Linked DNA regions of Homo sapiens: region 1 is linked to region 2. Evidence: fine-mapped expression QTL. A gene starts in region 2. The other region holds a variant in brackets. All regions are shown on one strand. Distances are between the middles of the regions.

Region 1 (5,379 bases), 30 kb before region 2:
CTTTGGCTGTGGCTCATTTTCCAGCTGCAGTCCAAATCTTCCAGTGATGACACGAAGCTATCACCATGGCAACCATCACTGACACACAGTGCAAAGCTGAGGATGAGGCATGAGTTGTTCTCCAACTCACTTCCATAACGTTAAACCACGCTGTAGGCTTTAACCTACTACCCTCTGGGTTTACTGTCCTGTCCCAGAACCAGAGAAGCAGCCCCCCATTTTTAAACTGAAATTGTTCTTTCACTCTCCTCAGGACCTCTCCATAAGAAAACAATGGCAAAGGTGACCATATGGCCACCTAGGCCCTGAAAGTATGGTATTTACTCACTCAAAACCCAACAATGTTGCAGTTAATTGTAGAAGTGCCATTGGGGAAGGATAAGATGGTATCTAAAAGTAGCACATGCATAAATATGATACAAAATGTCAACTTGTTGTCTAATAGCTACAAGAAAGAAGGTTCTGGGGCAAATATAACCACATTGCCTCACAGAAAAAGCCTAAAGAAAGTCTCTGCCAGGGGGGATCCTTGGGGTAAATGCTTTCTTTTCATAAGGATCAATCCAACCCTGCCCCATATGTTTAAATGCTAAATTCAAAAATGGGCTGCGATGAAAGAACAACAAACCTTTGTTAGCCCTCTGGGGGGACTAAAGATGCTGAGATGTGTTCCTTGCTGAAAGAGCACTGTAAATAGCAAGGAAGTCCTATTTTTCTTTGCTAGAGATAAAGCACAGTCTCACAGATTTGGGTCTTAGATTTTTTTATATATATCCTCTCAAATTCATTTTTGCCAGAGTCATCCGGTTCTGCTCTGATGCCAAAGATTTCAACACGGTTGGTGGTGGCAGAGCCAACACTGGTGACTTAACAAAGACTATTCACTCAAAAGCCACATTTCTGAAGAGAAGAGACCTGGATTCTGCAAGGAGCAACGGTACCTCTAATTACAAAATTTCTGAAATTCCCCTAAATGTAGGTTACATTAATCTCATCAGCATGCCAAGGATGGTGTGTCTTGATTTACTTTTGAGTAAAGACTCAAAAGTTGTGGTGCTGCGACACCCGGAATGTAAGGAAGGTAACTGGTGACTAATGGGAATTCCATGGACAGATGGGCCATTTAGAGTCACTGGCATTGTGGTCCCTCTAAACTGATGGGCAGCCACTCAGAAAACCCAGGAACCACAAACTCACCAGACTACTGCAGACCGCTTTTTCTCTGAAAGAACTAAGTTCTTGGGAAAGGAGGGAAAGCAGTCTTAAGAGAGTGTTCCCAGAGGTTCTACTACTTTCCCTGTATCACAAGTCCTCAGCAGGGGCAGGCTATTAGTCCCTGCAGCAGGTGATAGCAGAATTATCTGTGTGGTTGCCGGACTTTGGAGGGACCATTGCTTCAACCCTAAGAGTGCCCAGAGATCCAAATCAGGGCTGAATCCACTGCCTGAAGAACCCATAGTTCCTGGACAGAAATGAGGGGAGAAGGGAGATGCTGGTTTGCATTTCAGCCTGGACAGCAAGCAAACCTCAGCTAGGTAAGAGAGTTATTAGAGAAATCTCAGAAGATTCTGGTTGCTACAGAGACGTCTCAAACAGAGTTTCCAATCTTTCCAACTCCTAGGCCCTCCCACATCCTCCAGACCCTCTGAGATCAAAGGCAGAAACTTTCCTCTCCCTCTTCCTGCCTCTTCTCTCCAGGGTTGCTACAGGTTTCCAGGACCCTTAATCTGAACACTCAACCAGAGGGACCACAGGGCCTCCTGGAATCCTTTAAGTGTGGAAGCTGCCGTGGCATTCGGCAATCAGCTCAAAGCCACCGACATAAGGTGCTTCAACTGTGAGGGACTCTATGGCCTCATGATCAATATAACATCTACACTGCCATTAGCCTCTACAGGAGGGTGTCAGGTACCATGTGGTGGACATAGCATCGTTAACAAACGATTTCATTTACATACATGTTCTAGTATTACAGAGGAAGATCACAAACCACGATGCCAAGAAGTTGCATTCAATGTAGTGTATATTGATGGGCCATGAGACAGAGATGGATACAGCCTAAAGGGAATCAGCAAAATACTCACTTTTAGATATGTACCAGGCTGTACTGTGTTTGCAGTACAGAAGCCTGCAAGAACCAAACCAATCAAATTTATGTTTATTATGAACTTTATGCACGTAAGCACTGTGATTCTCCAAAATATACTAAATTCATTAAGGAGGAACTCAAAAGAGAGCAACAAAAAGTAGTAAACATTATAGAACAGGCACTTAAATTACCTTTGATCATGATGTCGATTACAGAACCTAAGAAGAAAAAATAAGAGACAACCAGAGGAAAAAGAAAAGTTACCACTTTAAGGGGAAGATATTGATCAATTTGCTATTTCTACTGAGGCTAAGGAATGGTTTTATACGCAGAGGGAAAATCATCGTATTAATCTATGGAAGAATAGCCAGTCAAAATAGGGGACCACACACTAGAAGTTACAAAAGAGGTTATAAAGTATTCTTCCTTGTTGGAAATCATTTAAACAGAGTAGATGAATCAACCCAAGAGTGTTTACTGAGACCCCAGCCCAGGCTCAGCCCCAAAGGACTGTAGCATTGGGGTTGTAAGTGGGAGCTCTGTAGTCAGATTTACATGCCTTCAAATCCCAGTTTGGTCACTTATGGGCTACACAACCTAAGGCAAGTTATTTCATCTCTTTAAGTTTATTCCTTATTTGGAAAATAAGGATGATAAGAGTACTTATCTCATTAAATTATTATGAGGATTAAGTGAGAACATACATGGAAAAGCATTTAGCTTGCTAGGATGTGCTCAATAAATTCTTGCTATTATTGTTTCTTATATTTGACTCCTTGCCTATCTAAAAATTACTGGCCTAGGTTTCTCATTTGCCAGATCACAATGAACAATGAAGAAATAAAC[A/G]AAAGGAGTGCTGAGATGCCTCAGATTCCTGCACGACAGTAAATGCCCTTTGCTCTCTGAGCCTACTCTCATGCCTCTGACTCATGCTTTGGGCACAATTCCTTAAAAAGAGTTTCCACTTCAAGCTTATGGAGAAAAATAAGTTTTAGGTAAAATATTACTTTGGTAAAGCAGTTCAACCAAGGGCCAGAATTTTAATACCTCCAGAATCCCTATCAGAAATAAATTCAACATGGAATGACAGGCCTAGCCACCTACAACATAGAAAAAAGCTAAGTTTGACCAGGGAAGAGAAAAATGAAGGACAAAATCTCCAATCCAGAAGTGGTGCTTCTAGAGATAAAAATTTCTTACACCTCCCACTCCCTTGTGAACATTCCAAGAAGAGCAAGGCCAAGAGAGAGTAGTGATATGGCCTGCCAGATAAAATACAGGACACCCAATTGAATTTGAACTTCAATGATAAATATCAAATACTTTTAGTATAAGTATGCAAATATTACAATATTTGAAACATACTTCTACTAAAAAATTATTGTTTATTTGAAATTCAAATTTAATTGAGTGTTCTAATTCACTAAATCTGACAACCCTAGATATAGTACAGGGAACCTCCTGTATGCAGACTGACTGAGGCCAGAAATGAAATAGAAACACTGAAAAAACCCAGAGTGATCCCTGAGCAGTCTCTGCCTGGTAGACAAGCTAGAGAGCATTCATTCCAGGGAAGGATAGGAACCCTGCAGCCTGAATAAGAAAATCCAACGTAAAAACCATTTAGCCTAAATGTAAGGGTGAAGAAGTCCCCTCGGGCAAATTAGCTTGTCTTGTTAACAGGATATTCAAGTCAAATGATCCAGTCTGTTTGTAGAAAGCTTACTGCATCCAAAAGCCAAGCACATGCAATTCATGGTTGGTAGAGCTGTATAATTGCACCCATTTGTCAAAAATCTAGGAAGACTTCATGGACACTTAGCGTCCATACCACAGGCTCCCACACACACTGTATTTGCTTCCATCACAGCACTCACCACACAAAATATGATTACCAATTTATCTGTTCATCTCTCTCTCTAGACTGTGAGCTTCTCAAGAGTGGAGACAAGGTCTAATTTATCTGTGAAACCACAGCCCTAATAGCAAATGGCCACCATACTATATAGCTGGTTAACCTGTGTGGCTTCTGTAAGGGAATTCACAGGAAGAAGGGGATAAATAGACTTTATTGGTAATAAGAAAGAGAAGAGGGGAGAAAAAGAAAGAAAAAGAAAGCTATCCTTATTAATTGCTTGCAATAGATTAATACATTTATCTGTACAGGTCTTATACCTAAGCACAATTGATATATCAAAAGTGGATCTGTGTATATATAGCAGTAAGAGAGAAAATTATTAAAGATTTTTATTGGGTTTTTTTTTGGTTGGGGGTGTGAAGAAAGAAGTCAACGTGTATATGGTGATATAAAAATAAAAATGTATATAAGGACCTTAAGGATGTGTCTATATGTGCATGTCAGGTGCCCACACGGAATGTGTTAGAGCTTCCGTAAAGGAAGTGAGAGATATTAGAAAAAAGACTCAACCCAATTCTCTTTCTAAAAATATTCAGATCTCTGAAGCACTCGATTCTAGAATCAGTTCTCAATAACAGTCCCCGTTGTGTTAATGAAACTGTAACTCATCTTACCCACTCACCTTTATACAGTGTCCGCAGGAATCCACAAATTAGGATATAGTTAGCAACGGTCCTCCTGAATGGCATTACAGAAATGAAACTAAAATACTCTGAAAGCCTAATACTGCTTCAGGAAAATCTCCACCCTGTTTAGGAGCCCTGTGTTCTATCCCATGGAACCTCTCCTCCTGTGTTTCCTCTCTCCTTCCTGCATTCCTCCGGTGAGAACCTCCCTATCTGTACTTCCCCTCTCTATCACTTGCCCCCGTCTTTCTTTTTCATAGATTGTTGAAAACTATTTAAAAGATCCTGAATATCAAAGTCTGTCTTCTTCTGGCCATGTATTTAAGGTATATAATAGCATGAGGTTTCCAATCCCCCAGGAGCTGGGCATGAAAATAAAATGTTAGAACTTCTATTTATATTTATTTTTATCTCACCCACTTTTAATTTCTGTTTTTTTGCGTGCTTTATAATGAACACAACATATTAGACAGTATACACATATAATTATGTACTAAATAAACATGCTGGTCATTGGCATTCCAGTTCTGTAGGGCTGCATAACAAACCACCCCAAAACTTGGTAGCATAAAATAACAACCAGTGTATTACGCTCACAAATTCTGAGGGTTAGGAGTTTGGGTAGGGCACAGCTGTGATTGTTTGATTCATTTCCATGACTTTTGGAGCCTCAGTTGAGAAGACCCAAGCATCTGGGAAGTGACTCCAGGGATGCATGCTAGAATCATCTGAAACTTCTCAACTTA
Region 2 (5,379 bases):
CTCTTTTCTATTTTGAAGTCAAATTAAGAGTTCATCCTCCTACTTGGAGTGGAAGCAGATGGAGAATGAGTTCAGGTGTCTCTAAGGTGAGCACACACCAGATAACCTCAGTCATTTGTAGACGTGGTGAGAACATGGTTCAAAGTGGGATCCCACCCTCTCACTCTGATTACACCATGGTTACAAAGTAGCATTTCAGCAGTAAAACTCAAAAGAATGAAACCTAGAGAAGGGGGATAGTGAATTTGGATTACATCTATCCTTTCTGGACAATGAAGAACTATCATCTACTGTCATGTTGAGCGACAAAGATCTTTCACCTCTTCCCCACATCCCTTTGGTATTTTGGATTATCAAAGAATTGTTGTTTTAAAATGCCAGAAAAAAAAATTGTGTGTGTGTTGGGGTGGTGGTAATACTTTTAGGAAAAATAATGATGCTAATGATTCTGCTACATGTTTTTGGAGATCTTTATCCCAACCTGATCCCTGCATTTAGACGCCTTCAGAGTTCAGGGACATATGGTCAGTGGAGCAAGGAAAGGAGCAGCCCACTCACCATCATGGCCCTCCAACCCATGAATGATCTGATTCTCTCAAGAGTTGTCTTGGATTGCATGAGTGACTAGCTGAAGAGTCATTAGCTAAGTCTTTTCCATTTCTCCTGCTATTTCTCTTCTCAAGTACATTAAAATACTGCCTAATCACATTTCACATATTGTAAAAATTGATGAAAGGGAAAATGTTAAAGTATTAATTCCATTTTTGAGGGTACAAGACTAATACATGCAAACAGCACATCTCTTTGTTTAACACAAAGACTCACGTGTCGAATTCTGCACCCCTTCCACATGCACAGCATTTTAGAACTCTGCAAGATAGCCATTTTGCAAGAGTGTAGAAGTAACAGTTTGCTTGGAGGATGTGTGGGTATAAATAGATATGTAGACAGAAGGAGAAATTTACAGCTCAAAAATAATAGCACAGGAAAAAATACAAATTAAAAGCAGAATATTGACAGAATTCCTCCTTTCCGAGCTTAAGATTTAAGTCGTTTAACCTGCAGCATCCTTCAATTCCAGGTGTTCTGAGACCAGCCCGATCCCCACCTAGACCTACCCCTCTGCAATAGGCCTCCCGGGATCTCTGGGCCCCTTGTCAACCCTTTAGACAGCAAGTGGATTTCAGGGCAACAATCACAGTAATCTCAATCATTATTTTTATCTGTTTTAAAGGGCATAGAAAGGATGCCTAGAAAGGTAAAGACAGGAGACAGGGAGAGAGGCATGAAGGTGACAAGGGGAATAAAGCCAACCTGAAAAAAAAAAAAAAAAAGGATTTCTAGATTCCCATAAAAATCGGAGCTTTAGTTCTGGGTGAATAAAATGCTATTTAACTGGAAAATCACACAGGTCTCCTGGCTGGCTATGTCTATAGATATAGATACATTCCCCTGATGCCATCCAACATCTTTTGTGCCTGCATACATCCACCCCCACTGCCCCCCAAAAGCCCAAAACCTGTTAGATGAGAGAAGAAAAAGAAAAAACATGGGAGATTTCCTTCTTTGTAATAAGCCTTTTTTCCCAAAACAGCATTATTTTCATATCTTGTGACCTTTTCTTCCAAAAAGATCCACTTGAGGGACTCGAAGAGATAGATAAAATGAGGAATCCCTACCCCAGGTGAGGAAAAAATAAAATAGAATTTGCCCTACCTTGGTTTGTAGAAGCCAAACCTCTAGACGGACAGATTAAGGGAGTGAGCATGTTGGGAATGTCCAGTCCCTTCTTCTCGCTTGCATATCCACATAAGAAAGACGAAGGATAAATGAACGGAAGATAATTTAAAATCCAATTTAGCGTAAATTTTGTTTTAATCTTGTGTCTTGAAGAGATGCAAATTCAAAAAAAAAAAGATTTAATTCAAAGGTAATTCAGGGTATGGAGAGCAGCTCACAATGCAGAATCCAGAGTAATTATTCCGTGTGCATGTGAGGTTAGTGGCTGGAATAGATTTTTAACGCTTCTTCTGGCAATTACGGTTTTTGGTTTTTGGAGCGTTAGTGGAGGAGGCTCTGTGTGGAGAAGCTGGGGGCCGGCTCCGTCCCTCGGTGGAGCATGGTCATTCCCAAAGCGTCCCCTTCCTAAGGGGGAAAAAGAGGCGGTCAGGGCTTGATTCGCGTGTCCCCCGGAGGGTGAGAAAAATGCATTCCGAAAAAGATATCAATTCGTTTTAAGGAAAGGGGGGAGGAAACCCCGCATTTCCCACAGAGTGCACACGAGAGGAATTGAAAACAGCTGGTACCGGTCTATAAATAATTCAGAAAAGGTCTGGCTATACCATTCCTGGGACAGGCACGGATGAGAGGTGGGAAAGCCAACCTGAATGGAAGAGGAGAGAGGGAGGGAGCGAGCGAAGGAGGGAAGTGGGAAGGAAGGAGGAAGGGGGGGAGAAGCGGCACCATACAGCAACACACACTCACACACACGCAGAAACACAATTCCCACTTAACTCGCCAGCGAGTGCGGCCCCCAGCCCCATCTGCATTGCTGCTGACTTGTCTCGCTCGCTCTCCCCATCGCCTCCAGCAGCAGCGCCGCCTCCCACCCCGGGCTTGTGCTGAATGGGTTCTGATTGTGCACGGGGTGCACACTGGGCATTTCTTGGAAGGGGCACACTGACGCGCGCACACACGCCCCCGACGCGCACGCGCCCCGCGCGCACTCACACTCACCCCCGCGCACACTCACCCCCGCGCACACTCACGCTGCCGCCGCGCTGAGGTGCAGCGCACGGGGCTTCACCTGCAACGTGTCGATTGGACGGATGGGCTCGGCGCGTGGGTCCGGCCCGGGGCGCCGCTGCCCTGCCCCTCTGCTAGGTGAAGGGATGAAACCCCCCAAAAGACCAGAGACAGCCCTACCCAGTCACAGCACCCCCTCCCCCACAAAAAAAAAAAACCTTTAAAAAAGCCACGTCCAAATTAGCAAGTGCCGGGTTCTGCTGGATTTCAGAGCTTTACCTCATGCCAGATTCGTTCACGATTTCACGGCTTCGACCCTTTATCTGCCTGACACCCCCAAACCCCTACATTCAAAGGAGAGACTCCAAAGCCCATCTTTACGTACCGGCTCCGAGCGCCTCCGCGGTTGCAGTCTGCGGAGAGGGGTGGCCGGTGGCTGGGAATGGAGGGTTTTCCTTTCCTGCAAAGCAGGATTAATGATCCGTCTCGGGGGTTTTGAAGTTCATGACTCTTCTTTGCAAGGCAAAAGGATATGCATTCGGACGCCAGCACTACTGGATGGTGGTGATCAAGAATCACCCTTGACGAGCACTCTCGATAGAGCGAAGCCCCGAGATTTCCTAGAGGTGAAGAAGCCGGAGGAAGTGGTTTTTGAAAGGGGGTGGGGGGAACCTTCCTTTCTCAAAAAGAGGTGGGGGGTGGAGAGGCAGGAGCCCAGATTCCAGTTGGTGAGGATCGGAGCCGGGGGAAGGGAAGCGGGCGGGGGCAGGCTGTGCAAGTCAACCGCGCGGCAGCCGGAGAGGGAGAGCAGGAGGGGAGGAGGGGAGCGTCAGAAAAATGGGTATTAATCACCGGGGACGGGGGGAGGCGCGGGGAACGCAGGTTGCCTGGTCTGGATTTGGGTCTCACACTCAAAAACGTGCCGCGCACACACACACAGACACACACACACCCCCTACCTCGCACACCCTGACTCCGGGGGGAGGAGAAACCCACGAAGCTGGGGAAGATACTGCTTCTGCTCCCAGGGGCGGGTGTGAGCGCGCGTGTCCTCTTTCTCCACACCCCCCACCCCACCCCACCCCCAAGCCCCTGCACCCCCTCACTCCTCTTGCTAAGACTCTGGCGGAGGCAGCTTCCCACGTCATGTGCTGGGGAAGTGGGGTGGTAAGGTGGATGGAAGGGGGACGGAAGGGGGAAGAAGCTTAGCCCGAGTCCGTGGCGCCTCCTCCCGGCCGCAGCGGGGAACAGCACCGACGGAGAGCGGCTGAGGGGCGAGGGGAGCTAGACAGTGCCCCCCGTGGGCGGCCCGCGGGCTGCGGAAAGCATCTCCAAGGCGGAGCTGTAGTTCGAAATTGAAGACCCTTGCTGTATTTTCCATAAATCAGCCTGTGCTTCCTACGAGCATTCTGTGTGTCGGACGCAGTCTGGGACCGGGTTCTTTCTTGCCTTCAAGGAGCTTAAGATCTATCTGAGCACACGAGGCTGACGCCTAACACAATAGAAAACAAAGCAAAGCAGGTGTCATTCGTGGCTAAATTGTATAGTATGGACCATACGCGTGCTTTTCTGGCTGCTAGTGAAGGCGGGAGGAGTTTGACATTTTTTATTAAAGTGGATCCTGTTATTTAAATGCCTTGAGAAGAGAAGATGGTGAGGCCCGTGAATAATCCCTAAAGGAAACTGGATTTCCTGGCATTTACAAACCCACCCTCTTTGAAAAGGCAAACATCCATTCATTTCTCTTCCTATTGAACTCTTTTATATTTTAATAGCCCTTATCACCACCTGTAGTATTGTTTACTTTTAACATTAATATTATTGTATATGCATCATTTTCATTCTCATCCATTGTCTTTTCAAATATCTAGAATACTACAGTGGTGGAACATTTTCATATTGGTTATATCATGGGCTTCTCACCAGCATTCCTGAGAAGCGGCCATACAAACGCACAGGAGAGAAGGCTGTGTGAGTGGATATACCTAGTGGCTTGGAACTTTAGTCTGTAGAAGCCATCAGATATGTTTTTGCTGTCCTGTAGACCAGACTACTCATACTTCTGAGCTACAGTAATTCTTCTGTTTCCTGGTTTTTCTCAGGCTTAATTTTTGAATCTAACATATTTAACACACACGAACACATAAGCATTGTGTGAAAACACAAATAGAGTGTGTTCACATGCAAATTATTCCTTCTCAGTAATGGTTTTCTATTTTTCTAAGAGTTAGAACTGATCTTTCACTACTTTGGGGAAGTGTCGAAGCACCCCAGAGTTGCTGTGCCCTCTTGATACACAACAGCCAACCCAAGCCCCTCTAATAATTTGTCTCCAGGGTTTTCAAGTTCACCTGCCTATGGGCAGGTTTGCAGTTGTTAGAACGCCGATTCCAAGAGGAGTATAGAATGCAGAAAGCAAGAACCTAATAGAGATTTCCTGAAACACTCTTCCCTGAATTTTCCAGGAAAATTACCGTTACCTGGTCCATTAGCTTCAGAATAACATCCAAGCTCACTCAAGGATCTTCATGGGTTGACCTTGAATCTACTTTTTAAATTTTTATATTTTTTATTTCTGGCTCATAGCCCACGTTCCCCTTCCTATCCTCAGTCCCTTCACCAAAATTATACTAT

Evidence for each region. PIP is the estimated chance that this variant, and not a neighbour inherited with it, causes the effect.
Region 1: its variant is fine-mapped to the expression of GRIN2B in tibial nerve (GTEx, PIP above 0.99).

Annotation. Positions count from the first base shown.
Region 1 is chr12:13,947,720-13,953,098 of GRCh38, forward strand. All of the region lies in intron 2 of GRIN2B (glutamate ionotropic receptor NMDA type subunit 2B), which reads right to left. Among named protein-coding and RNA genes, the nearest start is that of GRIN2B, 31 kb to the right of the region's middle. The variant A/G (reference allele first, on the strand shown) is at 2,936.
Region 2 is chr12:13,978,212-13,983,590 of GRCh38, forward strand. It overlaps GRIN2B (glutamate ionotropic receptor NMDA type subunit 2B), which reads right to left and starts at 3,391. Exons shown (of 14, transcript NM_000834.5): 1 at 3,131-3,391; 2 at 1,717-2,145.